Regions from separate parts of the Homo sapiens genome. Here region 2 is linked to region 1. A link means that fine-mapping ties the variant in region 1 to the plasma level of a protein whose gene starts in the linked region. Region 1 holds a variant in brackets. A gene starts in the other region. All regions are shown on their forward strands. Region 1 overlaps PISD (phosphatidylserine decarboxylase). Region 2 holds the start of CETN3 (centrin 3).

The links. A credible set is the group of variants that fine-mapping cannot tell apart. PIP is the posterior inclusion probability: the model's chance that the variant is causal. Protein levels are from antibody-based Olink assays in UK Biobank. Linkage for the fine-mapping came from a reference panel and not from the study's own genotypes, which makes the PIPs less certain.
Region 2: it holds the start of CETN3, and the variant in region 1 is the best candidate, but not a certain one, in a credible set for the plasma level of the CETN3 protein (UK Biobank, PIP 0.70).

Annotation. Positions count from the first base shown.
Region 1 is chr22:31,625,289-31,640,728 of GRCh38, forward strand. All of the region lies in intron 3 of PISD (phosphatidylserine decarboxylase), which reads right to left. Among named protein-coding and RNA genes, the nearest start is that of MIR7109, 11 kb to the left of the region's middle. RefSeq lists enhancers at 1-2,548, 291-844, 5,075-5,369, 5,787-5,946, 6,093-6,780 and 2 more and silencers at 5,297-5,716, 8,817-8,866. The variant G/A (reference allele first, on the strand shown) is at 8,414.
Region 2 is chr5:90,400,936-90,416,375 of GRCh38, forward strand. CETN3 (centrin 3) reads right to left here and starts at 8,821. Exons shown (of 5, transcript NM_004365.4): 1 at 8,710-8,821; 2 at 6,764-6,899; 3 at 4,750-4,864. The coding sequence starts at 8,726. It overlaps LOC731157 (a long non-coding RNA gene), which reads left to right and starts at 9,065. Exons shown (of 2, transcript NR_105024.1): 1 at 9,065-9,369; 2 at 9,565-9,734. RefSeq lists an enhancer at 8,591-8,790.

The DNA of each region.
Region 1 (15,440 bases):
CCAGGAAGGTGGCAGGGGCCAAGCAAAGACAAATCACTGCTCCCCTCTGGCTTTGCCACCTGCCCCACTCACTGCAGAAGAGCAGGGACCAACTGGGAAGAGCTACACCCCTCCCATGGGCAGGAAGGGGAATGGGGAAGCCTCTCTCCTAGGTGGGGTGCAGAGGCAAGGGTCTGGGCTGCGAGCAGGGGGCCTGGGAGCACCAGGGTAGGGAAGATCGCAGGCATGAGGTCTGAGGCTCGCTGGCAGCCTCCCCCTGCTGGGCCCTCCTCATGGTTGGAACCAAAGATACCTGAAGCGGGCTCTCCGACTCAGGGTGCTCAGGCCCCCCAGGCCAGGCTCCTCCAGCCTCGGGGGCTGACCACCAGTCCCCTTGCCGCCACCTCTACTGCGAGGCCGCTGGATGTGAACTCTGACCTTCCGGAGGTCGTGGCGGGGAACCGTGGGGTTAGGGCGCGGTGGGCAGCATCTCACCATTTCGCCGCGCGGAGCTCTGGTCCTTGCCGCGCCTCTGACTGACACATCATGGGCCGGCGCAGGGAGGGCGGGGCGAGGCTCACTCGATCACTCCCTTTGTTTTCCTCTTTCCTCCCCTTCCCCCGAGCCAGCAGATCTCCTGTGCTGTCACTGCTCCAGGGCCTCTGCCTCTGCGAGGCTGGTTGGTGGCGCCGCTTCCTGGGTTTGGTTCAGTCTCGGTGGCTCACAGGGTGCAGAATAGAGGGTCAGGGCTATTGCAGACAGACAGGCACTGGTCACACACCTGCTCAGGTCACCTGCTCAGGGCTTGCAGTCCAGTGCAAAAGCCCCTGCACTAAAGCCCACTGTCCCCAGTCCTGGCCACCTGCTCTGTCCCTGCTACCCAGGGCTGAGCCAGCCTGCACTGCTCATCCTCTTCCTCAGCTGGCCTGGGGAGGCAGTAGGGGGCAAGGCCCTAGGGCTGCCCGGTCCAGTAAGCCATGACAGGGAGGGGACCAGCCACTGCTGCCAGGGCTTTCAGGCCCCACTTGGCTCCAAACGCACAAAGTGGGAACTTGAGCCCCGTGCTCCAGGCCCAGGCCCAGCACCGCGTCAGCCGGTCTGCAGTTTGGCCCCTCCCTTGCCAGGACCTGACCCATTTTCAATTCAGGTTACAAAGTAGCATCTGAGGAATGAGATGAGCGGGAAGCCACGAGAGGTGCCCTGGTGAGAACCTGGCATCTTACCTGCTCTGGCTCTCTCCTCACCCCTCCTGGCCTTGACCCCCCACCAACACACACACAAAATACCCAGCTCCCTGCTCCAGGCCTCCTCAGAAGCTGTGCATGTGGGGAAAACCAGCCTGGGGCTGGGAACAGGCCAGGACTGCAGCACAAACCAGTTCCACTCCCCTTTTTCCATCGTTGCTTCAGAAAAGCACTTTGGCCAGGGCCCCAGCCTGGCTATCTGGGAGGACACACCCGGCCCCTACAAAGCCTCTCCACCTTGGCCTGCACAGATAGCGGAAGGAAGAGCAAACATGCTGAAGCTGTGCTATCTCAGCCCAGGCAATCAAGGCCCTCCAGGATATGGGCTGACAGGGAGCCCACCCCTCCAGTCCTTCACCCCCAGCCACTGCCCAGGAAGGGGCAGGCACCTGTCACCATCCTTAGATGATGAAATGTGGCCCCAAGAGCTGCCATCTAAAGCAAAGAATAGGCCAGGCATGGCCAGCCCGCCATGAGGCCTAACTCAGACATCGCTGTGGTCGCGCGTGGTTGAACATCTGACGCCCTGGCAAACCCTCCTCAGCCACACAGGTGAAGATTCCGCCCGGGAACCTGCCTGCAAGAATCACCGAAGCCCCGGGTATGAGATTCAGTGGCCTCTTGGAGCCAGGACAATAAGGTGACTAAGGTCAGACACAAGCGTGGATTTCTCCCCCGATCCAGGCTGGGGCTGGTCCAGGCCCCTCTCCTAAATGAGTGACGGGGACAGCTCACTGCAGATGGGTCAGGCAGGAGGGCGCCTACCCACCAGCAAACAGATACACACCAGCATCCTCCCTTGGGAAGGTGCCGGCACCAGGAGATTGGCACAGGCACAAGAGGCCCATTGCATCTCAAGGCCGAGGCCCAGGCCCATAGACAGCCCCAGTGTCCAGGCCTCCAGGGCCATGTCACTCCAACCACTCCGCCAACATACTGAGCAAACGCCCCACCCTCCCTGGCCCACCAGGCTCCATGCTGGCCTCCTGCCATCTGCCCAGGAAACAGGGGTGATAGCAGTCAGGGGTGAGCCTGGTGCCTGGTTCCAAAGGGGAAGCTCTTTCCCTGGTCTATAGAGTGCAGGCTTGGAACTGAGCTCACAGCCAGGATTCAGAGGGAGGCAAGCGTGGCCTTGAGGGGAGGCAGAGAGGAGGGGCCTTGGGGAGCCCCAGCCTCCTGCCAGTTTTCCTCACTGACCTACCATGTGGGACAGTGACGACCACAGCCCTGAATGTATTAGAAAGACATGAACCCAGATAAACCCAGCTCGGCCAAAAACCTTGGGTTCTCAAAGCAGGTTCCCCTGTGAGCCTTGGCATTTCATTCTCCCATGGTGCTGTGAGGGGCTGGGTCTGGCCTCCGGTCTCAGAGGGGGCCCTACTGAGGAATCAAGGCACATGAGGCCAGGGGCCAGGTCAGATGCCCATCAGGGAAAGGTGAGCCCTGGAGAGACTAAGAACCATCCTGAGAGGCCAGGCTGGGGCACCGCACCTGCCAGTGAGCCCAGTGAGGGCAGGGCGTCCTTGCCCATTTAGATCCTTGTCTTTATCACTGTTCTGCCTCTTCTAAAACAAGCGCCGAGACCAGGGTGTCAGTGCCTCCATATCACCAGCTGTGGGCCCCAGAAGATCGCCAGGGAGGAAAATGAATCCAGCTTTGCCCCAGGACACAGGCTGAGCACCGTCTGTCCCTCTCAGAGCTGCAGGATGGAGAGAAGGGGCGCCTAGAGGTTGCTGCCTTCTTGCTTCCCAAGGCCAAGCCACTTCCTTGGCCAGCAGTGTTTCTGGCCTCCCTATTTCAAATCCTGGCTTGCCCTCTGCCTATGACAGCCCTGGAAGCCCAAGCCAAAGATTTCATCCTCTCTGGCTGTCTTGAGGTGACACGAGGTGGGAGCCTCAGGCCCTGGATGAGGAGCTTGCAAGAAGGGTATCCAGAATGGAGGAAGCACTGACACCTTCCCTCCCTTCTAAGCCTCAAAGACATTCTGTGGAGAGGAGTTTAGGGTTGTGACCAATAGGACTTTAATGTCACTACATGGCCTAAGGGCCAGTCACCTGCAACATGAGAACTCAGAGGGCTTTGTGGCTGATGACAACCTGGTCACTGCAATCCTGGCTGCCTTCCTCTACCTCTGCCCTGAGAGCAGGGAAAGGCATTGGCAAGTCACAGGTAGTCTCTAAGTCTTGGTTTGTACATCTGGAAAATGGGAAAGGAAATTCCTCCTGGCCACCCCCTTGAGGCTCAGAGCACAGCTGCAACCATGGCCCAGAACAACTGCTCAGAAACCCCACTTCCACCTAGGAGCGCGACGCAGCCTCAGACCTGGCTTCCAACACCTCACCTCTCTTTCCAAAAAGTCAACCTCACACTCCGGTGGGGGCAGGGGTTTCCACCACAGGAAAGATGAAATAAGAGGGGCTTAGGTGGCAGTTCTAAAACAGGAACCCAAACTTGCGCGGAGTGACCGGCCCTGTGAATAGGAAACAATGGCTGATAGGACCGTATAGGGGGTAGGGGAACACCTTTGTCAGGACATGCTGTTTTGGGGATCCATACCAGAGCAGTAAGGCAGTGTCCCCACCCGTCCCTCACCAACCAGGGTAAAGACCACAACACCTGCCCCCCCAGTGGAATGGAACATTCCAACTGAAGTCGATGAATGACCCCAGGCCAGGCAGCAGTTACTACAGGTTGGGTTGGGGCCTGCAAGATTGTTGTGCGTGAGGGGTAGGTGCATGTAGGTGGAAGTGTGTGTGCATGGAGGATACGTGTGCAGGTGCAAGGGTATGTGCATGGAGGGGTGCGTGTATAGGTGCGAGGATGTGTGGGGTGTGTAGGTGTGAGGGTGTGTGTAGGGGGTGTGTAGGTGTGAGTGTGTTATGCGTATAGGTGGTGTGTGCGTAGGTGTGAGGTTATGTGCCTGGAGGGGGTGTGCACAGGTGCAAGGTGTGTGCATGTAGGAGGCATGTGCGTAGGTGTGAGGGTGGGCGCATATAGGGGTGTGTATGTAGGTGCGAGGGTGTGTGTAGGTGAGGGGGTGTGTGCCTGTAGGGGGCGCGTGCGTGTATGGGTGTGTAGGTGCAAGGGGTGTGTGTAGGTGAGGGGGTGTGTGTAGGTAGGGGGTGTGTGCATGAGGGTGTGTGTAGGTGCAGGGGTGTGTGTGTGTAGGGGTATGCGTGTATACACTTACAGTCCTGCTCCTAGTGGATTCTGGTTCAAGCCTTAGCAAGGCGGAGCAGGCAGTGAGGGATATGGCACTGTCACCTGCAGTCTGCAGCCCGCAGCCAGCTCTGCCGGAGTATATGTAGCTTTGCAGCTTGTGTGTTCAGCCAAGGACCCTGAGAACTGGCTCCTGCTGTCTGATGGGAAGCGCCTGGAACGCCAGGACCACCCCTCTTGAAGCCTCAGCAGAAACTTCCAGGGCCCCAAATCCTGTGTCCAGTGGCCTGACTGCGGGCCATGCACTTCCCCCGGGGGCGAGGGTGGGGGCAAGGGGCTGACTTTCTCCCCAGCTCAGCTGAGGCCTGGCCACCATGCAGCGGCGTGCGTCTAGTGGGGCGACAACCCTGCCTTCCCTGCATTCCTGAGCTAGAAGCAGGCAAACTTCCCAAGTAGGAGACGGGGAAAATGGTCCTCCCTGGGCGACATGGACCAGAGTCAGTGGCAGGCAGCCCAGGAGGCCCTGGGAAGAGGGCAGGCAGGACTCGCAGGGGTCTATCCTAGCCGCCCAAAGACAGGGAACCTCCTCTCAGACAACTCTGGGTGCTGAGGGGAACCGGCTCTGGGCAAAGGCAGTAAGCCGGCCACCCGCTCCCTGGCCCTCGGGCGCCGCCCTCTTCCCCAGGCGGCCTGCCCCCAGGCCCTCCGGCAGCACCAAGGAGACGGAGCTCTCAGCCCGGGCCCCGCCAATGCCAGCCGGCACCCCCTCACTTCCTGCAGCCGCCTCACTGCAGGCACCCCCTCACTTCCCGCGGCCGCCTCACTTCCCGTACGCTCTTCACTTCCCGTACCCGCGCCCGGCAGGAGATAAGATGTGGAGGAAGTGAGCTCACGCAGCCCGGGCCGTGCCCACGTGGGGACGGAAAAAAAGCCCACGACTCGCTCAACCTTGTCCGCGGGGCTCCTCAGGCCGGGGCCGCGTCGTCACAGCTGGGAGAGCCCACCTGCGACCGAAGGCCCTAGAAGGGCACCCCCACCCGGCACTGGCCCTCTGAGCGGGCAGGGTGGGGCGCCTCCCTGAGAAGTCACCTGGGGCTCCCGGCAGGGCCGGGGCGCCGGCTCCGCTCACTCACCCGCAGGTGGCTCCAGCTTCCGGGCTCCGACTCCCTAGGGGCGCTCCCGGAGCCGGGAAGCCTTGGGGCGAGTGGGCGGGGCTCGGGCTCCAGCCACTCAGACTACCAGGGGCGGGGGCAGGAGGCCGACCCCAGCCACCCTTAAAGCTGCCGCCCCCTCTGAGCCCCAGTCCTGCTGGGCCGTCCGCCCAACCCGAGGGCCCCTTTAAGAGGAAGGGCCAAGGCCAGGGAGAAGGGGAAGGGCAGCAGACACCAGCTCTGCTTGGTCACTGTCACGGGAGGACCCCACTCAACCAGCAAGGTGGGCCCGGCTGCTCCCAAGGGATGCCTCCTGTCTGTCCTCAGTCTGTCCGCTGGTCTGTGAGCCGCCTGTCTGCAGCCCGTGGCTGGCCTCCCAAAGCAGCTGCCTCCCCTCCACCACCCGCGACCCAACACTAGGCAGACTCAGGACCCCACGTGCTGCTGACCTCACTGAGGACCAGCTTCTTCACTGGACTGAACAGAAAGCCACCCCTGCTAGCCCTAGGAAGCTCCAGAGAATGCGAAATCCTTGATCCTTCCCGCATCCCATCTTGAAGCTACAAGGCTGCTCCCACCCCAACCTTCTGCCCTCCAGGCACGCAAAACCCTGACAAACAGAATGCCCTGACTCCAAAACTGATGTAGACCAGCGAACAAGGGCAGCCAGAAACAAGGTCCGACCGCCCCAGCCTAGAGCACACAGGCCTCCCTGCTTCACTACTAGGATGCAGAGCCCATGGGATGGATGATGCATGCTGTCTTCCCACCCCGCTAGATCGGAGGGCCCTAGTCTGCGGCTTGGCAGTCCACCCCGTACCCACATGGTGCCAGGCATCCGACAAGCACTCAGCCCACATGGGATCAGACCAATCAGCTTAATGCTTTTAGGGGAGGGGAAGGGTCTGAGAGGGATCACCATTCAACCAAAGAAAAGGTGTGGCATTAAGTAGCCTTGTTCACATCTGTGGGAGCAACTGAGCACGCCCATTCCCTATTCAATGGTGAGTTGGCCCTAGAAGTCTCAGTCTCCTCATTCTGAGCCACTGAACAGGATACAATTCCAGCGGCTTCTCACCACTGAGATCTTTGTTTCTAAAGCAACTAAGGCATGAAGGCTCATGCCTGTGATCCTAGCACTTTGGGAGGCCAAGGTGGGAGGATCACTTAAGCTCAGGAGTTTGAGACCAGCCTGGACAACATAGTGAGACCTCTTTTTTTAAACCAAAAAGAAAGAAAGAATTAAGGTTTGGAACAGGAGGAGAGGGTCTGTAGGGCTTGCGGAGAAATGGTGTGGGGGCCACGCCTGGAATAGGACATAAGGGTGTACAGTCACAGCCCCATACACCTGTCGTCCTTACCTGGATCCAGCCCAAGCAAGTGCCACATGACAAGCCACAGCCCTGGGATGCGGCAGGGGGAAGAAGACAGATAGGGTCCTCCTCCATGGATTTCCATGTTCTTCCATACCTACAATGCACCCATGGGAACAGGGAGGCAGGGGTGAACAAGGCACAGTGCCACCCCTAAGGGCCTCAGCATGTGGTACAGGGGTGGCAGATACCTTATACAAAGCTGCTCCTAATATTCTCCTGTCCAGACATCACTACGGGAGGTCCTCAAATAGTGTCATCATAACACTGATGAGAAAAAAAATCTATTCCAGCCAGGGCTACTGTCTGTGTGGAGTGTGCACGTTCTCCCCATGTCTGCATGGGTGTTCTCTGAGTACCCTAGTTTCCTCCACATCCCAAAGCCATGCACATTAGGCTCACTGGTGTGTCTAAATGGTCCCAGTCTGAGTGAGTGTGGGTGTGGGTGCACCCTGCCATGGGAAGACATCCCATCCAGGACTGGTTTCCGCCTTGTGCCCTGAGCTGCCCATCGGATAGGGGACCACCTGCAACCCTGAAATGGAGTAATTAGGTAAATAATTATCTAACTTTTTATTAATCATTCATAAATGCATGTATAGCTCACATTTCAATGGTTAATATTAGAAATGTTTGGGGTCTTTAAAAGTTCGGTGATGTTTTTGTGGTCAGAAACATCCATAGGAACTTAATTCTTGCTTCTATCAATCAGCCTATGGTAAAACTGGTTTCATTCTATGTTTTGCTTAAAGGTGAAGATCCCAAGAACCTATCATCAAGATTGAGAACTTACTGTAACTGATCCCAGCATTCTCAGAGCCCCAAAGAAACTTCAGACCCCTTCTCACCTCAGAGGTCCAAGGAAACACATGACATGGGATAAAATGCAATTAAAGCACAGAAAGATGTTGACGCAGAATCCTGCCACCACCAACTTCCAGAACTGGAAAGACCCTGGAAGACCATCCTGGCCTCCTCAAAGCCTCTAGTACTTACAGACCAGCCCACACAGGTCCCTGGGGACGGAACAAAACCAAGCCCCAGTTAGACCAGGGGAGAAAGGTCTGTAGAGGAAAGACCAGCTTCTGCACACATTCTACCTCCCATGTGCTGAGAGATCTCTGGGATTCTCACACTCTTCCCTGTGGAATGGCCAGCTCGGCTGCACTGCATCCACTGGCATTGCTTTTTAGCCATTCTAAGCCTCTAAGGCAGATGGGTGTTTAAAAACCCGTAAACCACCAGGCGCGGTGGCTCATGCCTGTAATCCCAGCACTTTGGGAGGCCGAGGCAGGCGGATCACGAGGTCAGGAGATCGAGACCATCCTGGCTAACACGGTGAAACTCCATCTCTACTAAAAATACAAACAATTAGCCAGGCATGGTGGCGGGCGCCTGTAGTCCCAGCTACTCAGGAGGCTGAGGCAGGAGAATGGCGTGAACCCAGGAGGTGGAGGTTGCAGTGAGCCGAGATCGTACCATAGCACTCCAGCCTGGGCGACAGAGC[G/A]AGACTCGTCTCAAAAAACAAACAAACAAACAAACAAACAAACGAAACCCATAAACCAGCCCACAAGTTGGCCGAGATTAGCACTACCCCACCTTCCAACCAGACCTCCACCACACATATTTTCAGTGGGGAAATGCCTCTGGATTTTGAACAATCACTTACAAGTGAATTTCCATTAGGGAAAAAAAATTGTCTGGAAATTTACTTTCCTACCTTGTATTTATTTCCTTCAGGCCATGGAGTCCTTTATTTCCACGCCTCCCACTCTGTTAGGACTCCCTTGGGTGGGAGTGCCACCTAGTGCCACTGTGAGGCTCTGCAGGCTCTCAGGCCACCTGCAGATGGAGGCCTCCCTGCCTCAGTCAAGCCACCTGTATTCTCTGCCAGGTCCCAGCTGTGTGAATTTCATGCACTACTTCTAAGGGGATGCCCTGTGCCAGGGAACAGAAGGTAGCTGCGGAACAGGGGTAAAAGGTGTCCTCAGCTAATTCTCATTTCCTGGCTCTTGGCTAATTCTCATTCCCTGGGGGCTGGCAGAAGCCCCTCAAGGAAGATGGCTGGGGTCTTAACGGCTAGTACAAGAAACCACAGGCAGGCATCAGCCTCCCCAACGTCTGGGCAGAGAGGCCAGGCAAGCACAAAGTGCCTTCAGGCTATTTCTCTACACACCAGATTCTCCTATCCCTGCCCAACTCCCCACTCATCTTTGAGAATCGTTTTTGGCAGTCCCACTAGCCTGCAAGATGTCCCGGATACCCCTGGCACATTCAGAGCCCCACCAGCAGCTCCCCAAGGGCCCTGCCCAGGCACTCAGGAAGGGCAGACTGGGGTGGAATTCAGAAAAAGTGCTTTAGGCCAGACGTGGTGACTTAGTGTCTGTAATCCCAGCACTTTGGGAGGTCAAGGTGGGCAGATCACCTGAGGTGAGAAGTTCAACACCAGCCTGGCCAACATGGTGAAACCCCATCTTTACTAAACATACAAAAATTAGCCAGGTGTGGTGGTGCACGCCTGTAATCCCAGCTACTCGGGAGGCTGAGGTGGGAGAATCGCTTGAACCTAGGAAGCAGAGGTTGCAGTGAGCTGAGATTGCCACTGCATTCAGCCTGGGTGACAGAGCAAGACTCCATCTCAAAAAAAAAAAAAAAAAAAAATAGAAAAAGAAAAAGAAAAAGTGCTTTTAGGCCTGGCACGGTGACTCATGCCTGTAATCCCAACACTTTGGGAGGCTGAGGTGGGCGGATCACCTGAGGTCAAGAGTTCAAGACCAGCCTGGCCAACATGGTGAAACCCTGTCTCTACTAAAAATACAAAATTACTCAGGTGTGGTGGCACGCACGTGTAATCCCAGCTACTCAGGAGGCTGAGGCATGAGAATCGCTTGAACCTGGGAGGTGGAGGTTGCAATGAATTGAGATCGTGCCATTGCACTCCAGTCTGGGCAACAAGAGTAAAACTCCGTCTCAAAAAACAAAACAAAACAAAACAAAACTGCTTTTAGGTAGAGCCTCCTGGCAGACAGCTTCATGCAGGGCTGCAGGTATCTTGAGTCGGCCATCCCTCGATTCCTTCCAGCCCAGAAGTTTAGCCTTGTGTTTAAGTTCCATGTCTTTTTTTTGGAGACAGAGTCTGACTCTATCCCCCAGGCTGGAGTGCAGTGGAATGATCTTGGCTCACCACAACCTCTGCCTCCCGGGTTCAAGCAATTCTCATGCCTCAGCCTCCCAAGTAGCTGGGACTACAGGTACCTGCCACCACACTGGGCTAATTTTTGTATTTTTAGTAGAGATGGGGTTTCACCATGTTGGCCAGGCTCATCTCAAACTCCTGACCTCAGGTGATCTGCCTGCCTCCCAAAGTGCTGGGATTACGGGCGTCAGCCACCATGCCCCGCTGAGTTCCACATATTCTTGAGACACGGTCCCTCCGCTTGTCCACACACTGACCGCTCAAAGCCATTGGAGGTAGCTCCCAGGTGGGTCCTGGGCCACCTGGGGGCATGGCTGTATGAGCCACCGTTCCGCCCTCTGCGATCTCCTCCTGCCCTAGAGTGAGCCCACAATTCTCTGAGGTCAGAGCTGGCCCCTGCCAGCCAGTTCCAGTGGCATAAGAACACTACAGGAGTTCAGGTGGCACTGGGGCAGGCAGGAGGCTCTGCTTCCCTGCCAACTTGACTATTTGCCCATTTCCACACTCACACCTATTAGGTAAGAAGTAAAATAGTACTAAAGCTCCACTCCCTGCCAGCATGGGGCCAGGTATTTACATACACATCACTCTTATTTAACAACTTTATGAGGGCATGAATGGCCCTATTTATAGATGAGAATAATAAAGCTACAGCATGTACATCGCTCACCAACATGGAGAACACGTCCGATACTGCCCACTACCAGGTACACCGCGGCGCCAGGACGCGTGCTGAGCACAGGCCCATGGGGCTCCAGGAAGGGGACAGGGAGAGAAGGAGGACACAGGCCACTTCACAGGGTTCTGCCTTATGCTTAGGCTGAATGGTGGTAGACCAGACAGGCTGATCTGTCTTTATTCCTTTTGATGAATTGGAATACTGTACTATACATTTTTTTTTTATTCTAAACGGAGGCTAGAAACAAGGAAGCAGCGCTCAGACAGGAGTGAGCATACCTGCAAGCCCAGCTGAGTAAGGCCTTTCCTGCACTGCTGCTCCCCAAACACCTCAGCCCTTGCCACAAGCCCCCAGGGCCATGCCTCAAAACAATAAAACCACCTTCCGGGTTCAAGCGATTCTCCTGCCTCAGCCTCCCAAGTAGCTGGGATTACAGGCACCCGCCACCACGCCCAGCTAATTTCTGGGTTTTGTTTTTTTTTGTTTTTGAGATGGAGTCTCACTCTCTCTCCCAGTCTGGAGTGCAGTGGCACGATCTCGGCTCACTGCAAGCTCTGCCTCCCAGGTTCACACCATTCTCCTGCCTCAGCCTCCCAAGTAGCTGGGACTACAGGCGCCCGCCACCACGCCCGGCTAATTTTTTGTATTTTTTTTAGTAGAGACGGGGTTTCAACGTGTTAGCCAGGATGGTCTCGATCTCCTGACCTTGTGATCTGCCCACCTCAGCCTCCCAAAGTGCTGGGATTACAGGCATGAGCCACCACGCCCAGCCTAATTTTTGTATTTTTAGTAGAGACGGGGTTTCACCATGTTGGCCAGGCTGGTCTTGAACTCCTGACCTCGTGATCCACCCATCTCGGTCTCCCAAAGTGCTGGGATTACAGGTGTGAGCCACCGCGCCCAACCTTTTCCCTTTTTTTAAAAAGATTACATATTCGTTGGGCGCAGTAGCTCACGCCTATAATTTCAACACTTTGGGAGGCCAAGGCAGCTATATCACTTGAGCCCAGGAGGTTGAGACCTGCCTGGGCAACACGGCAAAACTCTACAAAAAAAAATAATAATAAATAAATTAAAAAAAAAAAAAAAAAAAAAATATATATATATATATATATATATATATATATATATATATATAGAAAAATTAGCCGGGCATGGTGGTGCACGCCAGTAATTCCAGCTACTCAGCAGGCTGAGGTGGGAGGATCGCTTGAGCCTGGGAGGTTGAGGCTGCAGTAAGCTGTGATCACACCGCTACACTCCAGCCTGGGCAACAGAGCAAGACTCTCTCAAAAAAGAAAAAGTTGTGTTTTTTGTTTGTTTTTGTTTTTTTTTAAAAGAGGTTACATATTTACCATTAAAAATCTCTCACTGGCCCTAAACTGGCAACAGTCATCTAACCCTGGTCTCACGCCACTCTGAACCGGACCCTCCTCTGTACTTCCTCCTGCACCAGCTCGCGGCAGCCACAGGGCTGTTCTGTTCAGACCTGAGAGACCCATTCAGGCACTCACGCTGGGACGTGCATGTCACTTTACTCCAGTGACTGAGGACCTGAGAACTCCTTCGTCCTCCATTTTCCAGAGCAAAGAAGAAACAGTGAAAGCTACAGAAAAGCATCTCTGCTTTTGTGAAAGCACAATTCTCTTCCCATGCTGACTCAGTCTGGGGAAGAGGTCAACTTTTGGATCCACTCTTCTGAAGAAGCAAGTGTCCCGCTCCCCTCACCCGGCACTGGCTATCTTGAATCAGTGAAGAGGAAAGCTCTTCACTCCCTAATGTCACGTCCTACACATTACAAGCTCTGACTGAAATTTCTCACTCAGAATGTTTGTAACCTAAACATTTAGACTGAGTGGCAAGGAAGGAGGATCCATGTGCTTCCAGAAATAAGGCTCGGCCCCAGACAGACCCAGAGGCCGCCCTGCCTTTGGCGTGGGAGCCGCAGGCTGAGCAAGTGCCTCCCCTCGGGCCAGGCCCTCTGTCCTCCAAACCACTGGGCCAGGAGAGCCTGGCCCTGCTCTGTGGCCACTCAGGCAGATGTATTTTGGCTGTGCCTGCCCTTGGCTGTGGGGCTGCTGCCAGGTGGTGGTAGCCCCAGGATGAAACCAGCCCTCCCCCAAGACCTAGATCCACGGGGCAGAGGCAACACAAAGGAACTCAGGACGCTGTGACCGGGCACAGCTCAGGCCCAAAGATGTGGGGCAGGTCCAGTCACAACAGCAGCCCCACGTCCCTTCTGGAGAGTCTGGACGGCCACCCCTGCTGTCAAGCCCCTGCCCCATGGGAAACTCACCTCCACTTGACCTAACTGCAAGCAAAAGTGTCCACCAAATGCCCTGGGTCTGTGGAGGGGCGAGGAAGGGGGGATGAAGGGGGATGAAGTGGGGAAGTGGGGAGAACAGGGAAGAGGGAGAAACGCTTGTTGGCCAAGAAGACCGGCAGAGAGGAAATGACACAGCTGCCCCAAGAGAGGCAAAACGGGTAGTAAGGACACCCGCAGGCCACTCCTCCCCTCAGAGATCTGCCCCCATCCTTCCCTAGCCTCTGCCACAAAAACCAGTTCTGTCTCTACTACTAGCTAATGGTTTTTTCTTTGTAGAGGCATGGTTTTGCTATGTTGCCCAGGCTGCTCTCAAACTCCTGGGCTCAAGAGATCTTCCTGCCTCAGCCTCTCAGGCAGCTGGGACCAGAGGCACACACCACCACCCCTGGCTGATTTTTCTTTTCTTTTCCATTTTTTTTTTCTTTCTTTTTTTTTTTTTTTGAGATAGAGTTTCGTTCTTATTGCCTAGGCTGGAGTGCAATGGCGCAGTTTCAGCTGAGGTGGGAGGATCACCTGAGCCTGGGAGGTCGAGGCCGTGGTGAGCCCTGCTCACACCACTGCACTCCAGACTGGATGACAGAGTGAGAGCCTGTCTTTTTTTTCCTTTTTTTCCCCCTGAGACAGCGTCTCGCTCTGTCACCAGGCTGGAGTGCAGTGGCATGATCTCAGCTCACTGCAACCTCCGCCTCCCAGGTTCAAGCGATTCTCCTGTCTCAGCCTCTCAGGTAACAGGGACCACAGGCACACACACCACCACCCCTGGCTAATTTTTCTTTTCCTTTTTCTTTTTTTTTTTTTTGAGACAGAGTTTCATTGACCAGGCTGGAGTGCAATGGCGCAGTCTCGGCTCACTGCAACCTCCGCCTGCTGGGTTCAAGTGATTCTCCTGTCTCAGCCTCCAAATTAGCTAGGATTACAGGCGCCCGCCACCACACCCAGCAAATGTTTTTGCATTTTTAGTAGAGACGGGGTTTCACCATGTTGGCCAGGCTGGCTAATTTTTTAATGTATTTTTTTGTAGAGACAGAGTCTTGCCTTGCCAGGCTGGTCATGAACTCCTGGGCTCAAGCAATCTTCCCACCTCAGCCTCCCAAAGTGTTGGGATCACAGGCATGAGCCACCATGCCTAGCTGAAAGTGTATATTTTCAATTAGATGTTTTGTAACCAAAAATTTGAGATATAATCTAAAACAGTATTTGTCAATTTCAGGAAAAGAGGAAACAGGCAATATGACATGATTGCTGAATGATTTTTTTTATGACTTTTGGGGACAAATAGGCAGCATATCTGAAATCACAACCGCCACACAAAGGCAGGACATATGACCACTGCAGCAGTATAAACTATGGATCCATAAACTACAGATCTGTACCTGGTAGCCACCCACCCTCTGTCTGTGCTCACTCACCGCGGCTCTGAGCACAGGCCTCTATGTCAACAGCCAAAGCCACAAGCCACACCTGTGGAACCCAAGTGAACACTCAGGCCAAGAACCAAGAATGTTCCCAGGACATCATGAGTTCCTGAAAAGAAACTCAGAGAAGCGGCTCTTCTACTTCTCAGCAGTCCCTGAGCTCCTGCCTTCAAGAGTGCCCTTGGTACCCTGCAGAAAATCACCTCTGCCCACTGATGGGCCACAGGTTGAATCAGGGACTCAAGGGAATAGCACTCTGGAAGCCAAAAAGCATTATTCAAGCTGCGCACACTCCACGCGACGGGGCTAAATGGAACTAAAAGGAACACTCTGGGTCTTCAACCTGAGCAGCTCAGCAAGCAGCTTTCCAGAACACGATTTCAAGCTACTTTTTTTTTTTTTTTTTGAGACAGAGTCTTGCTCTGTCACCCCGGCTGGAGTGCAGTGGCACAATCTCAACTCACTGCAACCTCTACCTCCTGGCTCAAGCAATCCTCCCACCTCAGCCTCCCAAGTAGCTGGGACCACAGGCCCATGCCACCACACCGGTTGATTTTTGTATTTTGAGCAGAGATGAGGTTTCACCACGTTGCGCGGATTGGTCTCAAACTCCTGAGCTCAAGTGATCCGCCACCTCAGTCTCCCAAAGTGCTGGGATTACAGGCATGAGCCACCACTCCAGGCCTCAAGCTACCCTTTCTAGAGACATCATTCTGTGAAATAAAAACTTAAAATAAAAACATCCTTTTTGTTTCGGTTTGGTTGTTTTTTTTTTTTTTTTTTTTTTTGAGACGGAGTCTCGCTCTGTCAACCAGGCTGGAGTACAATGGCACGATCTCGGCTCACTGCAACCTCTGCCTCCTGGGTTCAAGCAATTCTCCCACCTCAGCCTCCCGAGTAGCAGGGATTACAGGTGCC
Region 2 (15,440 bases), not on the chromosome of region 1:
GCACATACTCAACTTATTTTGAATTTAGTCCCAACAAAAAAGCAGGACAAGGAAAAAAAGTGTTAAGAAATTTTCTTCACCAATTAAATAATTTACATGACAGGTGAACCAAAAAAGCAGCTTGCTGAAAGTATTAATGTACTTAAAGAAGCAACAGGGTGATTGGGGAACAGATGGGGCTCCAAGATGTATAAATTCTTATCCCACTGGTACTTTAATTGTGTTAGTTATTTCAGAGCTATGTGTCTATATATTCTTTTATCAATATTCTTCCTTAAAATGCAGCTTTTCTTGGGAATTATAAATGCTCATCATTTTGGACAGCAAAAACATTACCTAATATATAACTTTATAATGACTCTCCTCCATGCCTTCAGGTTCTATTCTTGTTCCACAAAGTAGAATTTAATTATAAGGAATATATTTATTTTCAATGAAAATATTAGTAAACTGATATAGAGGCAGTTAAGGTGGGTTTCATTTATTTCACAAAACTCCAAATTTCTGTCCATGCAACTGTATTTTCAAATGATTTAATTACACATACTATCAGAAATGTACTTCATCAAAATACTTTCTTAGACCTTTAATGTGTAAAAATCACTTAAGAATACGGCAAATCCAAAAACATCACATCAAAAGTAAATTAAAAATTATTATAGGTAATGCTAGAAATACAGCTTTAACTGTATTTCTCAATGTCTTTCGGAAATTTCTATCCAAACATACCAGTTAGACATGTTGGACTCCAAACTCATTCCACTACCACCATAGTAACTGCAGCTGCCTCCCCTACCCCAACCAAAAGATAACAGCAACATTTACAGCTAGATTCCATATTTGAAAAGCATAAATCATTTTCAGTCCCACAAACTTAATCAGGTCCTATAGTACTGAGAATACTGTTTTTTTTCTAATTTATTTATTGTTTTAAAACAAGGTCTCGCTCTGTTGCCCAGGCTGGAGTGCAATGGCGTGATCCCAGCTTACTGCAGCCTCAACTCCTGGGCTCAAGCAATCTTCCCACCTCAACCTCCAAAGTAGCTGGGACTACAGGCATGTGCCATCATGTCTGGCTAATTTTTTAAAATTTTTTTGTAGAGACAGGATCTCACTTTGTTGCCCCAGCTGGTCTCAAACTCCTGTGAGCGAGCAATCCTCCCGCCTTGACCTCCCAAAGTGCTGGGATTACAGGCATGAGCCACCAAGCCCAGCCTCTTTTTTATTCTTAAATGTATTTTCTTTTCACCCTCGCCATCCTCAGCGAAAAAAATAGTATTTTCTGTCTGCAGTCTCTCTTCCTTCCAACTCATCATCAATAATACTCTCATCAGTTTTCTTTCTCAAACATATCATATCCCCTTCCCTTAAAAATTGTGAATGATCTCTGCTGACTAGAATTCAAAATCTTCATGTTTTGCAAGACTTTACCAATCTGGCCCAATCCTATGTTTCCAGTCATTTCCCTATGTCTAGCCCAGAACACTACCTAGTTTCCCAAACATGCTATCCGTCTAGTACCATTCTTTGTTGTTGCTGCTTTCTAAGCCTAGAATGCTTTTTCTCTACTCTTCCTGGCAATCTTGGAATGAAATCTTACTCACATTTCCAAAGGCCTAAATTTAAAATCTCCTCTGCAAAGACTTCAATTCCTCTAGATCAGGGATTAACAAATCTTTCCTGTAAAAGGCCAATAGTAAATATTTTAGGCTTTGTAGAGGGCCATAAAGTCTCTAACTACTCACTCTGCCATAGTAGCACAAAAGCTGCATAAAAGAAGGGGTGTGGTGGTGTACAAGCAGCAGCTGAATTTGGTCCAAAGGCTATAGTTGCTGACTTCTGTCCTAGACAAAATTACAATTTACCACATAGTACTATAGCCTGTTGTCACCTATATTTACATTGTAAACTCCCTGAAAGAAGAACCTTTTAGTAACTTTTAATTAAGTCTTCTTCCCAACCCCAGTACAGTACCTAATACCAAAAAATTCAGTGTTAAATAAGCAAAATGAAGACAATAATACAGTATTACAATCTCAATCAGCAATAATAAGTAGTACATGTCAAAAATAGTGTACAAACGTTTGACTTATGTTAGTCTTAAAGACACTAATTCCTAAAATATCTATGTTACTCACTAGCCTCAGGCTGTCTTGACTCTAAACTTAAATTAAATATATTTTAAAGCTTTTTTCCAGTACTAGGAAGAGTCTATAATAGTTAACTGCCAAACTTCATCCAGATATATCTGTGGAACAGTGTCCTTGGGTAGTTCATAAAACTAGGACTCAAATGTTATGATTTAGAATCATCTGTCCCAAAGTATAAAACATATTAATCTGTGGTCAGTGATTAGTTAAAAATAATCAACAAAAGGGGTAATACATAGTTCCTGAATGATTCCCAAACAGTAATACATTTTTATTTGACACCTGGTACTCTCCATAGGTAGCCTTAAGATAGCTAAGATACATGTTGACCCTGTCAAAAGGTTAATCTTTTAGTGTCAAAGCTGAAGTTTAGCCACATCTATTTATTCTAGAAGGAACCCAGTATTTCTGCTCTGTTAATAACATAGAACAGATGGGGTGTCAGGAAAAAGTGGAGGTGGCATGGGATTCTGGTCCCAACTGCCAATAAAAATCACAATTTTTGGCCGGGCGCGGTGGCTCACGCCTGTAATCCCAGCACTTTGGGAGGCCGAGGCGGGCGGATCACGAGGTCAGGAGATCGAGACCATCCCGGCTAAAACGGTGAAACCCCGTCTCTACTAAAAATACAAAAAATTAGCCGGGCGTAGTGGCGGGCGCCTGTAGTCCCAGCTACTTGGGAGGCTGAGGCAGGAGAATGGCGTGAACCCGGGAGGCGGAGCTTGCAGTGAGCCGAGATCCCGCCACTGCACTCCAGCCTGGGCGACAGAGCGAGACTCTGTCTCAAAAGAAAAAAAAAAAAAAAAAAAAAAAAATCACAATTTTTAAATTGTGTTCATTTAAGGTGAAATAACATATTTTGTAAAATTATTAGTGATGATACAGTGCTTACAATAGCCTTTATGAAAAAAGTCAATAAAAAATATACACAAAGTCTATTTTATGTCCCAGTGATGCATATATGATTATTTCGAGCCCCTGAAACAAAGACAATTTTTTAAAGTAATAATAATAGCAAATGCTTAGTAGCACTTACAACATGCTAGGCCCTTTTCTAGGTACTTCACATATCATTAACTTAATCCTTAGAAGAATCTCATGAGAGAATACAATGATCCCCACTTTATAGTTGAAAATGAGGCATGGGGTATTAAAAAGACCAAGTTCCAGAGCTGTAAAGTGGCAAAACCAAGGTATGAACCAAGGGAATCTGGTTCCAAGTGCTAAACCACTATACTGTACTAAACATACCTGGATTATAGCTCCTTCCTAATAGTACCATTTCCACTATATACAAACACCTTGTTTCTACAAATAAACAATCTAAGGTAAAACTAGGAATACTACGATCATAAACTTCAGGAGAGTGTCCATTCTGGGAGAACAAAAGGTGGCTCTCTCCCTTTCCTCAAATAATTAATTCTACAAATTAGAGGAAAAAAGGAAAATGTCCCCAATGGACAAGTTGCCTCTCTAAACAGTCATATATTAGTTCATAAGTTGAGGATCTTCTGTGCTGTGTTTTTTTTCTCTTAGGTTCATCATTTATTTTCCATCTCAACTGCTTATGACTTGAGCTTTTGGATTTAAAAAACTGACTAATGACATGAATCTAAATTTTCTCTGCGTCTACTAATTGCCATTTCTTTTTGCTTCCCCTATTGCTTCTTGATTAATATTTAAAATAAGGGGTTTGTGTATATAGCAGAATTTGTTTCCAAATTTTTAAAATATCTTAAAATACTTATATGATGTGCTTATATCGTGACCCATTGGTTTAGAGAAAAAAAAAAAAAGAAATAAACCTGAATATTTACATATTTTGTAGATAATATTCTAGACAATACATTTAAGTTATAATAGCAACATCCTTGCCTTCCGGACTCTTCTATTTTGAAAAAGCCTGGTCTATATATGCTATAAATAATTCACTAAAATCAACTATAAAAAAATTTAGCCATATTAAGCCTATGACACATTATCTTCAGTTGGTGGTACTAGGATGTTTTCTCCTGCTTCCAGTATGCCCACTGCCTCCTTTACTACTACCCTCTAAACAGATGACTTTATCCACTGAGATCAAGGTCATCCAGAGGATGTAGCCTCTCATAAACTTTGTCAACCTGAAGTCGTGCATTTCATCTACAGCCAAAGATACCAACTACTACCAGTTCCCTCTTCTCCCACTTAGCCAACAAAAATCACATACCAGAAAGGTCTTGGGAAACATTTTCCAAACAGCAGGATATCAAATTTTCTGTTTTATTAAGCAAAAATAATTTTTTGATCACCCTTCAAGTTTTATCACATAATATAAATACAAACAACTTGGAAAAGCATCTTTCTATAAAAAGCTACACAATAGTTCCTTGGTTAGAATCTTCACAACAAAACAAAAGACAAAACTATAAATCTCAGAGCAAAGCCATATTTTTTCTTTGAAAAAAAAACCAACAAAACAAAACTGAGTAAGAGTCACATTATACACCAGTGTTCTATAAGAAAATTCCATAACCTAGAGAATTTAAAATTTAAAAAGTGATATTAATCAGACAATTTCCTAACAGCTGCTGATTACAAAGACTATTAAAATACACACCAACTTCATTAAAATCTTCAAAGGTGATTTTCCCTGTGGCTTCTCTGTCATAATCTTTAAGAATCTTCAGTACATCAGCTTTTTTTACATCAAACCCCAAGGCTCTCATTGCCACCTTTTGGATTAAAAAGGAAAAGCAAATTATAAAGCACTCTTTACAAAAGAATTTCTAATTATTAAGTTTTTACATCTTAAGAGATGACAACACATTAATAAAATATAACTTTTTTGCATGTTTTACCTCTTTAAAATAGCAGTGATAGTGTAATTGTTCTTCACTACTGAAATTAAGTATGCATAAGTTTTTTCATTTATAAATTGCATTTTTTATATGACAAAGTAACCAACAAGTGTTTACAGATTTTACTATATAAAATGCACTAACTTATTGCACAGATAATTTGATTGTTATTTGTTCTGAAGGGATTAACAATCAAAATGAGAAAAAGGCGTGGCATAAATATTAAACAGTTACATGATAGAAGAGATAAAACATTAAAACAAGAATTATCATCAGTCTTTCCATGATTAGTTACCAGGTAAATGATAGGGCTAAGGACCCTGAGTTTAGAGAAAAAAGAGATTTTGTTACTAATAATAAGGAAGGAGACATATTACTGACTAGAGAAGTCTTATTTGGAAAGATTCAAACTGTTCCTTGAAGGATAGATGAAGAGGAGCAGTAGGGTATTTGGGAAGGATGACTGGTATTAAAAGAAACACTGAAACGAATAGGTTCGAAGGACAATGAACAGAGCAGTTTACCTCACCTGAATTAGAAAAGTTCAGGTGAGGTAAACTGCTCACCTGAATTAGGAGGTGAATTCCACCTTAATTAGAAGAGTTCAGGAGGAAGAAAGCAGTTAGCAAATGAAAAAAGTAGTTGGTGGCAAAAGTGTAGAGAACATTCAGTAGAAAGCAAAGGAATCTGAACTTTAAGTAGTATACAATGAGGAGTTATGGTTTATGAGCAATGAACAATTTATGAGCAATGGTGAAAGAATTTTTAAACTATCTAAATTCAGTGGTAGTGTACAAGGTGAACTAGTAAGAAATCATTTAGGAAGCTCCAGGTATGAAATAAGGTCCCAAACCAAGATAGTCAATGGTTACAAATGGAACAGACATTATAAAGGAAGATCAAATCTGGGTAACCAAAAAAAAAAAAAAACAAAAAAAACAGTGGGAAAAGAGAGCCAAAGAGGACTGCAAGATTGAGAAAGCTAGACTTAGCAGGCCTATTAACTGCTTTTATACATTCTATCCTGTCACTGCATAGTTCCTATCCCTACTTGGAATTCTAATGCTTAAAAATCCCTTACGAAATTACAAAAATTAAAACTACCAAATAAACACTTACATTCACCTATCCATTAAGGCCATTAAAAATCTCAAAATACTATCTTTCCCACTGTGCTGAAAGTAAGTCCCATTCTACCCTAAACCCAAATCTCTCCTTATACCCTGACAAATAATAATTTACAAATCTCTCCCTACACTTTGACATTCTAGGTCTTAAAGCTGACATTTTTACCTATTAGCATGTGTCAACATCAAACAGCACTAAAGTTGTTTGCACCAGAGAAAGTGGATTGAGACTATGTTACTAACAAATCCAAATTATAAGATTAAAAGACAACACTCCCACAGTCTGAAAACAGTATGAGTCACCAAGAAACAAAAACAAAAACAAAAAACAGTGAAAAGAAGATGGTAAGAATAAATTCCAGTTTGAAATCCTTTAATTATGACAGTGAAAAATAAGCACCTTCCCTGGGAATGTATTTTTACATTTAAAATACTATTCGTTTTCTCATGTGAAAAAGATTTTCTAAAAACTATGTTAGGAGTTCTCTTCAGTTTTATTACAGCATCTAACTATGAATGCTTAAAATGCCTTCATAGTTCCAAAACCAATTTAGTTAAAATAATTATTTAGAAATGTAATGTAAAGCAACTGTAAAAATGCAAATCATTTTAACACAGAAACAAATATTTTAAAGTATACCATTACCTTTAATTCATGATAATCTATTGCTTCATCTTTGTCTGTATCAAATAGTTCAAAAGCATCTTTAATTTCTTGTTTCTGTTCCTCAGACAGTTCTCTTCTTTTTTTCCTCTTTGTTTTGTCCACTACAAGCTCACTTCTATGAAATGGAAAGAAAAAGCCCTTAGTCCACTTTAATTCTCTTTACTAACAGAAATTAGCCAATAATTACCTTCTAAATTTCAAAAAAGAAAGTACTTTGGAGAAAGATAGGGAAACTTTCCCTTTATGAGTCAATGACCTGTTTATTCCATAGTCTAAATTGCTATAAATCTGAACTTCGCAAAACTAAAGAGTGTTACAGATTATTAAAAGAAATGAGGACCAAACTTTTCTTTTTCCCAGCTTTTTATTTATTCCCACTAATGTTACTGTGGAAGAAACAAGAACTGTGAATAAGCAACACTACTTTTATGTCTGAAACTCCAACCAACTCCAACCAAAAAAACAAAAACACGTTATCCTACAAGAATGTTAAAGAATTTAAAAAAAATCTCCAAATGAAACCAAAATTCATAACTGACAATCACTATATATCGGTTTACTGTTGATAGTTCTGATAATTATGTTCATAAAATTACAAAAAAAAAGTGAATTAACTTATACAGTATTTTAGCACTGTTGGTTCAAAATGTTTTTAGATTACACGTTTTTAACAGTTTGGCAATTTATGTGTCATTTCCTCCATTGATATTAACAAACCATCGAAAATATTAATGAGTCTAAACATATGACAAATATTAGATGCCAATATACAATGTTTGTGCTTCATTCTATATAAAAATGTGATGAGTCTTGTCTCATTTAACATGTAAACCGGAGGTTAACTTCTCATAAACTCTGGAAACGCTTAAAGAAAAAAAGCAAAAATTATTTTAAAGCCAGAAATGTTTTCCTTAAGAGCTGCCCATCTAAATGTGCTCCAAATTTTCAAATGGAGCCGCAACACTGGAATAACGAGTTTTGAAACACAATCCGGTAACACATTAACATGTCAAACCAGTTGACTGTACTTAAAACACCTATCTAGTTGCATTTGAAAGTCGTTTTGGTCTCTGAAAGCTCCAAAAAAAAAAAAAAAAAGCTAGGAAGTGACTAGTAGGTGCAGTATAACAAAGCTGAGGAAGATCTTCCTTTCATGAGACCTGACTTGACACAAACTTGGGTATTCCTGGGGTCAGTCTTTTCCTTCCTGAGACTTTTGGAGGCCAAGTCCAGAACCGACCCACCCCTGACCCCATCCAAGGGTACCATGATTATCCCTTAGCAGAACATGGAATATTTTCGGAGTGTCGTAAGTGTATGGATAGTTTTACGGTACAACGTCTACATAGTGGGAGAGGGCAACAGAGGGTTAGAGGTTAGAACTGAAAGGTAAAAAAATGCAAGAAATTTAGGAAATCCAAGAGACAGACTGCCAATTAAAGTCACTAAAATGGGTCTCCAATTACACCGTAAAGCAGGGCCCTGGGAGAAGAGGAAAGAGTTTTTGTTATTTCCAAAATTTATAGGTGGGTGATTGCATTAGCAGCGGAGCAGCCGAGGTGGGGCCCTGACCAGGCACACGGATGAATGAAGGGATGTCCGCGACCTGATCTGAGAAACAAGAGTAGAAGCCTCGCGATATTTCATTCCCACCTCGCTCGCAACTAAGCCCAACCTTCTGGCAGTCCAAAGCCCTACGCGCTGACAGAAATAACCTCCTTAGCAGAAATGCACTGGTCTCGTTCCCTGCAGGGCATCAGAGCCCAGAGGGTGAGTGATCCGGGCAGGCTGCCCTAGGCTCCTTTCCCGCGTCCCAAACTACATCCCCTGCCTCGCCTCGGCCCCAAACGTCCTCCCTTCCACACACACCCTCCCTGGGCCCCGCTCCGGGGTGTGGAGAGCACTGCCGCCTCCTTATTACCGACCTCAGAGCTAAACTCATTATCTCTTCGCACAGAGACGTTCCTCTCAAGAACGATTTTAACCCCCTACCCAAGGCAGCAAGACGCCCACAGCCGTTCAACAGACACGAACGACCTCAGCGGCCTCAGGGACCTCCCACAACATAGACACTTTTGAGCTGGATTGGTTGAAATGTCGCTATGGTTCTGCCTATTAGGGGGCGGAAGCTTTACCAGTTCTATTTTCATTGGGTAGGTTTTACGTCAATCAAGGAAAAAAAAATTTTTTTTCTGTGCCCCGCCCACCTCCTAACGCCCCCCCGCCCCCCCAATCTAGGGCCGCTCTCGCCCTTCGGATTGGCTCGATGCGTTTTTCCCCGAATCCTTTGCGGGTCCGGCCTCCGATCCCTGTGTGGCTGTTTGGCGGGTGGGCGCTGTGTTCCTCTCTCGTAAAGCCGTGCGGTCTGTGGGCCGCCATTCAGAAACTGGATGGACAGCTTCGGCGGTGGGAAGGGAAGGGACATGCTGCAGGCCACCCTCCGGCTAGAAGGAGGGAGTACTTGAGGAACAAGGTCTGCGAAAATTGGCTGTGCTCTGTTCTAAAACTTGGAATGGCCTCAGTACCTGGGGAATGTGTTTAAAATGCAGACTTAAATGTCCGTTTCTCCATTCTAATTTCAGTAGGTATGAATCTGCGTTTTTACTCCTCACAAGCCTTCCAAGTGATTCTGAGGCAGGTGCTGTGGCTGTACTTGGATTATCACAGGGTTAGATTATCAGGCTATTTATGATTTAGCTGTATCTAAACCACCTTTCCCTCTCTTTCCTCCTTTGAACTGTTTGAAACGGATTTGTTCCCTTCTGTCTCTTATTTTTCAGTGCTGTAAGCTGTTAACACACATGAGACTGTCTTCACTACCAAACCAAGTCTCCTAAAGCTCACTTGAATGTCTGCTTATTCGTGTCTCTTACTAGGTTCAATTTCTTGGAGGCCGTGATTATATCTATTTAACGCTTTTCCTTGTACCTAATAAAATGTCTGGTGCGTAGGTGCTCGGTAAATTGAGTGGAATCTTTTGAAAATCCACAAAATACTGAGCTAAACAGCAAATCTCATAAACGTGAATAAAATAGCCTGAGGATGGGAGTTGAAGGCGGAGAATATATAAACATTATATGTTTAAGGGATGTATATAAAATTTTAGAGAAGGGAGAGAACACAAGATATGCTTCTTAAAGGAGGTGACATAAACGTTAGACCTAGAAGGATGGGCTAAATTTGCACAAGGAAAGATAGTATGATAGAATAAGCTAAAAATTAGCTAAGGGATAGCACCCCTAAAAAACAAAAGTGGAACTTTTATTTTGTTCGTATTTTAAATTTTAAAGTACCTTTATAAATCACCTTTGAGTCTAAAAGGAAAGAGAAATTGTAGTTACTAGAACATAATGATATTGAAAAAAACTATATGTTAAAATTTTAAGATACAGACCAAGTTATAGGAGAACATTATTTTAAATAAGAAAGAATAAAAATAGGCCAAGCATTTATTTGAAGATGTTAGAAACGAAGAACAAATTGTATAATTGAAATTAGGAAGAGGAAATTAGTAAAGATAAAGTTTGAGAACAGTGTTTTAAAAGGAAATTGGTAAAATTGATAAAGTACTCATAATCTAGTATAAAGCTGGTTTTTGGCAATACCAGTGAAATTCAAAGACTTATAGGAAGTGTAACAAGAAAAGGAATAGTGCCACTAGTAAGGTTGGTAATTTAATAAAAGGGAGGTTTAAAAATTATTAAAATATTTTATACAATTTTATACCGCCAATAAATATTAATAGAAAATGAAATAGTCACTTTTCAAGGAAAACATAACTCAAAAAAGGTGGAAAACTGAATTAAGTCAATAACTACAGACAGGACTGGAACAAAGATGCCAAAGTTCTGTACTCACAAATAAAAAGCCTCCAGCCCACTCAGATTTATGATTAAAAATCATAAGAGCTAAATCTTGTGCTTTAAACTCAAGTCATAGAAAATGATGGAGAGCTTCTTAGCTTAATTTTTGAAGCTGCCATAATCTTTCACATCCTAAAAGAACATTTAAAGTCACTCAGTGTAAGCTCAGTGATGATGAAGGCTATGCATGTTTCTCACCATTGTATCCCCAGTGCCTGACTCATGTTTGATGTTCATTTGTGAACTTAAGTGCAAAATTCCTAGATGTTAGCAAAGTCAGTTTGATACTGTCTTAAAGGAACATTTCTCTATAACTAAATTGAGTTTTTTTTTGTTAAGTGCAAAGATAATTCAAAATATAAATCTGTGTTAAATAATTATAATGTTAGGTTAAGGAAATCATCTCAGTGTCAAAAAGGCACTGAATAATAGGTAACACCTTTTCTATTAGGATATAAAGTGGGTTTAGAAAATACTTTTTTAAATATGATCGGCAGAATACTTAAACACCAGTGTTTCTCAAACCTCATTCCTGAAACACTAGGATTTTGTGAGATGCTTTTGGTCTCAGAGTGCGTTTTATAAGCAAATAATTTGGGCAAACAGATTTTAAAAGGTTTTCAATAGGGTGTCCTTTTAAGAGAGTGACAGGGAATTTACACGCATCACTTTTATTATATTTAATTAGTGAGAACTAGTGACAACCACTTCTTGCTTCACGGGAGGTTGAGGCAAGAAATCTCTAGATGGAAAACTGCTCTGCTGAAACTTGGGGTCTAATCATCTATTACTAAAGATAAGACAGGTGGTTACACTAATTATATTTTAAACCTAAATTTGATGCAATCAAAATTCTCATATTTTTCTTGAATTGAACAAAGGTATTCCAAAGACCATCTCAACAACAATTCTATAAAAATAACTTACTAAACTGTGAAAAAGAATAATAATACAAAAATTGCTGTATGGGACACTAAAATGTATTTGGTACAATGGTAATCAGACCAGAAATTCCAGAGACAGCCAAATGTAAATAAAAATGTCTGCTTTGAAAAGGTAGTGACATAAATATTTGTTTAGTCTGCCTCCTAAAGCCTTAATAAATCAAGAGTTCCTCTATCACCCACGCTGGAGTGCAGTGGCATAACTCACTGTAACCTCAAACTCCTGGGCTCAAAGGATCCTCCCGCCTCAGCTCCTGAAAAGTTAGGACTACAGAAGCATGCCACCATGCTCAGCTAATTTTTTTTAAATTTTACACTGTGTTGCTGTGTTGCCCAGGCTGGTCTAGAACTCCTGGTCTCAAGTGACCCTCCAGCCTCAGGCTCCCAGAGTGTTGAGATTACAGGAATTAGCTCCCATGCCTAGCCAATAAATTAATTTCTAAAGCTGAAGTGACCTGGAGAGGGACCATCAGCAGACTAGGTATTTAAAAAATTATTGGAAAGATCAAAAGAAATATGGAAACTTGTTGACAAATGAAACAGATCACTGAAGTGGCATCCTATAATTTTCCAGAGATGACTTATGTTTCACAGAGAGTTGATCTACCTAGCAAAGTCCCAGAGAGACTCCAGGAATAGAGTTCCCTTGTACAGTAGAAGGTGGAAATGAGAAGGGGGCTAAAAACAAAATGTCAATTTAAAACCTCTTTAGGAAACCACTGTACTTCAGTTCCTCCAGATTCCTCTCCCCAGTGTTTTGTCTCTTTACATCTATCTAGAACTCCACTCTTTTTTTTTTCCTTTTTTTAGAGACGGGGGTTCTCTCTGTTGCCCAGGCTGGAGGGCAATGACATGGCCTTAGATCATAGCTCACTGCAACCTCAACCTCCTGGGCTCAAGCAACCTCCCACCTTGCGCCTTGGCCTCCTGAAGTGCTGGGATTACAAACGTGAGCTACGGCACGTGGCCTGAGTCTTTAAAATGAATGAAGAATGAAAAACCATCAGAGATATGAAAATCAACAGCATGAAAGATAAAACTAAAAACCATTTCAGGAAGACTCTGAGTCAGCTAAGGAACCAAAATAAAATAATAAGAAATTAATAATAATAAGCTGCCTAAGAAGTACTCAAGAAAATATTAGAGAACAGAATACTCTGAAAAAGGAGCATTGGAGAATAAGAAAAGACTGTTGAAAATAAACATGAATGTAAAAATTAAACTGGCAAGATGATTTAATTGAAAAAATATCACAAAACTTGCAGTATTCAAACAAAAACATGGAGAATTTTGAGAAAAAAATGGAGGACTAATTCATTATTTGACTAATAAGAATTTCTGAAAGAGAGAACAAGAGGAGGAGGAGAAAAATATCACACATTGAAAAGATACTTCGAGGAACTGAAGATAAATACAGGTCTCCAAATTGATAGAACACATTTAGTACTGAGCAAAATAATAGTAAAAGAACCACACCTAGACACATAAAGAAGCCATTTCAGAGCATCAAAAATAAAGAAAAAGGCCTAAAAGCTTCCAGTCACAAGAATCTGACCTTTTATAAAAGAATTTAAGAATTGAGCTAGTATCAGATTTCTCATCAGAAACTTTAGATACCGAAAGATAATACCTTCAAAATTGTAAGTGAAAATTATTTTGAACTTAGAATTCTATTTCCTGTCAGAACAAAACTCAATTATGAGTACATAATAAAGATTTCAGAAAGTTCAATTATCATATACTCTTTCTGAAATATGTACTCCAGAAAAGTAAGAATGAAATCCAAAAATAAGATAGATGTAAAATACAAGAGTGTGGCAGATAGAATGACCCATCGAAGATGTCCATGTCCTAATCCTTGAAATTTGTTAATGTTACACTGCATGGAAAAAGGAACTTTGTAAGTGTAATTAAGGTTATTAACCTTAAAATAGGGAGTTTATCCTGGATTATCCAGTGGGCTCAGTCTAATCATGTGAGTCCTAAAAATCAGAGAACTTCTTCCACTTAGAGGCAGAAAAAATGAAGCAGGAGAGGTTAGAGAGATTTAAAGTATAAGAACTCTGGCCGGGCATGATAACTCATGCCTGTAATCCCATCACCTTGAGAGGCCGAGGCAGGTGGATCACCTGAGGTCAGGAGTTTGAAACCAGCCTGGCCAACACGAAACCCTGTCTCTACTAAAAATCCAAAAATTAGCCAGGCATGGTGGCACATGCCTGTAGTCCCACCTGCTCAGGAGGCTGAGGCGGGAGAATTGCTTGAACCCGGGAGATGGAGGTTGCAGTGAGCCAAGATTGCGCCATTGCACTCTCCAGCATGGGCAACAGAGTGAGACTCTGGCTCAAATAAATAAGTAGGTAAATAAATAAACCAAGTATAAGAACTCAATCCACAATTATAGGCTGAAATGAAATGAGATCATGAGTCAAAAGAATGAAGGCTGCTTCTAAAAGTTGAGATGACCCCAGCCAACAGCCAGCAAGAAATTGAGGACCTCAATTCTACAAAAGTACGGAACTGAATTCTGTCAACAACCTGAATAAGCTGGAAGTAGATTCACCCCGCAAAGCCTCCTGAAAGAAGCTCAGCCCTGTTGACACCTTGGTAGGCCTTGTAAGACCCTAAGTGGAAGACTCAGTTGAGCCACACTGTACCTAGACTTCTGATTTACAGAACTGCAACATAATGAGTGGGTGTTGATTTTAGCCACTAAATGTGTAGTAATTTGTTATGATAGCAATAAAAAACGAATACACCTCTTAAGAGGTGAAAGAGAAAAGAGGGAGATACAAGAGGCTTAGAAAGCAACTGGTCTAAGATAAATTGATAGACAACTAGGGGAATGTTTTCAAGAAAAAATTGAATGAGTTCCAAGCAGTAGATAGAAATGGATAAAGAGAACATGAACATACTCAGTGACATGGTGAAGAAAGTATTTATTTATTATTTACTCTAAAGGAAAAAAAGAAGGTAATTAGAAAGTCTTTGAAAAAAACTAAAATTTAATTGGAAAATTATGGCTTAAAAATGATGTAAACTAAAATAATCCATTATCAAGCTGCAGTGAACATTATGAAGTACCACCTACCATTCTCTTTTCAGAACCAAGGAACTTATATCCCCAGTTTCCATGAGTTTTGACTGCTAAAAACTCACAATTTAGTTCCCCCCAGGAAATTGCCCTCCACCAAAGGTATGTGCCTTGCAAAAGATTACACAACTTCCCTGGGGACAGAACACATCCAAAGACTGATTAGTGTGGAAGAAAAAAGGTTGGGCTCCTTGCCTCAATTCAAGGGAACTCTGAAGGTCTTCTCCAACTTCATAGTTCCCCATCTAGTTGGCTGAGGCGTCTGTTTTGACTGCACCATGGTTTAACTTCTCTCTATGCCCAATTCAGCTTCAGTCAGCTCCTTGTTTCTGAGAGGCTGGAAATCTCTTATCTCCTAATCTGTTTCCTAGAGAACTCACCCTAAGACACACCGTAAGAACAAGAACAAGACAAATATATTAGATCGCCACAAATACAGTTAGGCAGCTTAGCCTTAGAAACACAAATTTTAAAAGTGAAGTAAAAAACATGTTTAAAGAAAATGAGTGAACTTACTAGAAAAGAAGATGAAATATTTAAAAGACCACAGATGTTTAAAGCAGCTTTATTTATAATGGCCCAAACTGGGAAGAAACCAAGATGTCTTCAGTGGATTACAGGATAAACTATGGTACATCCACACAATAGACTATTACTCACCTCTAGAAAGAAAAAAAAAACAGGCCAGGCATGGTGGCTCACACCTGTAATCTCAGCGTTTTGGAAAGCCTAGGCAAGAGGATCACTTGAGGCCC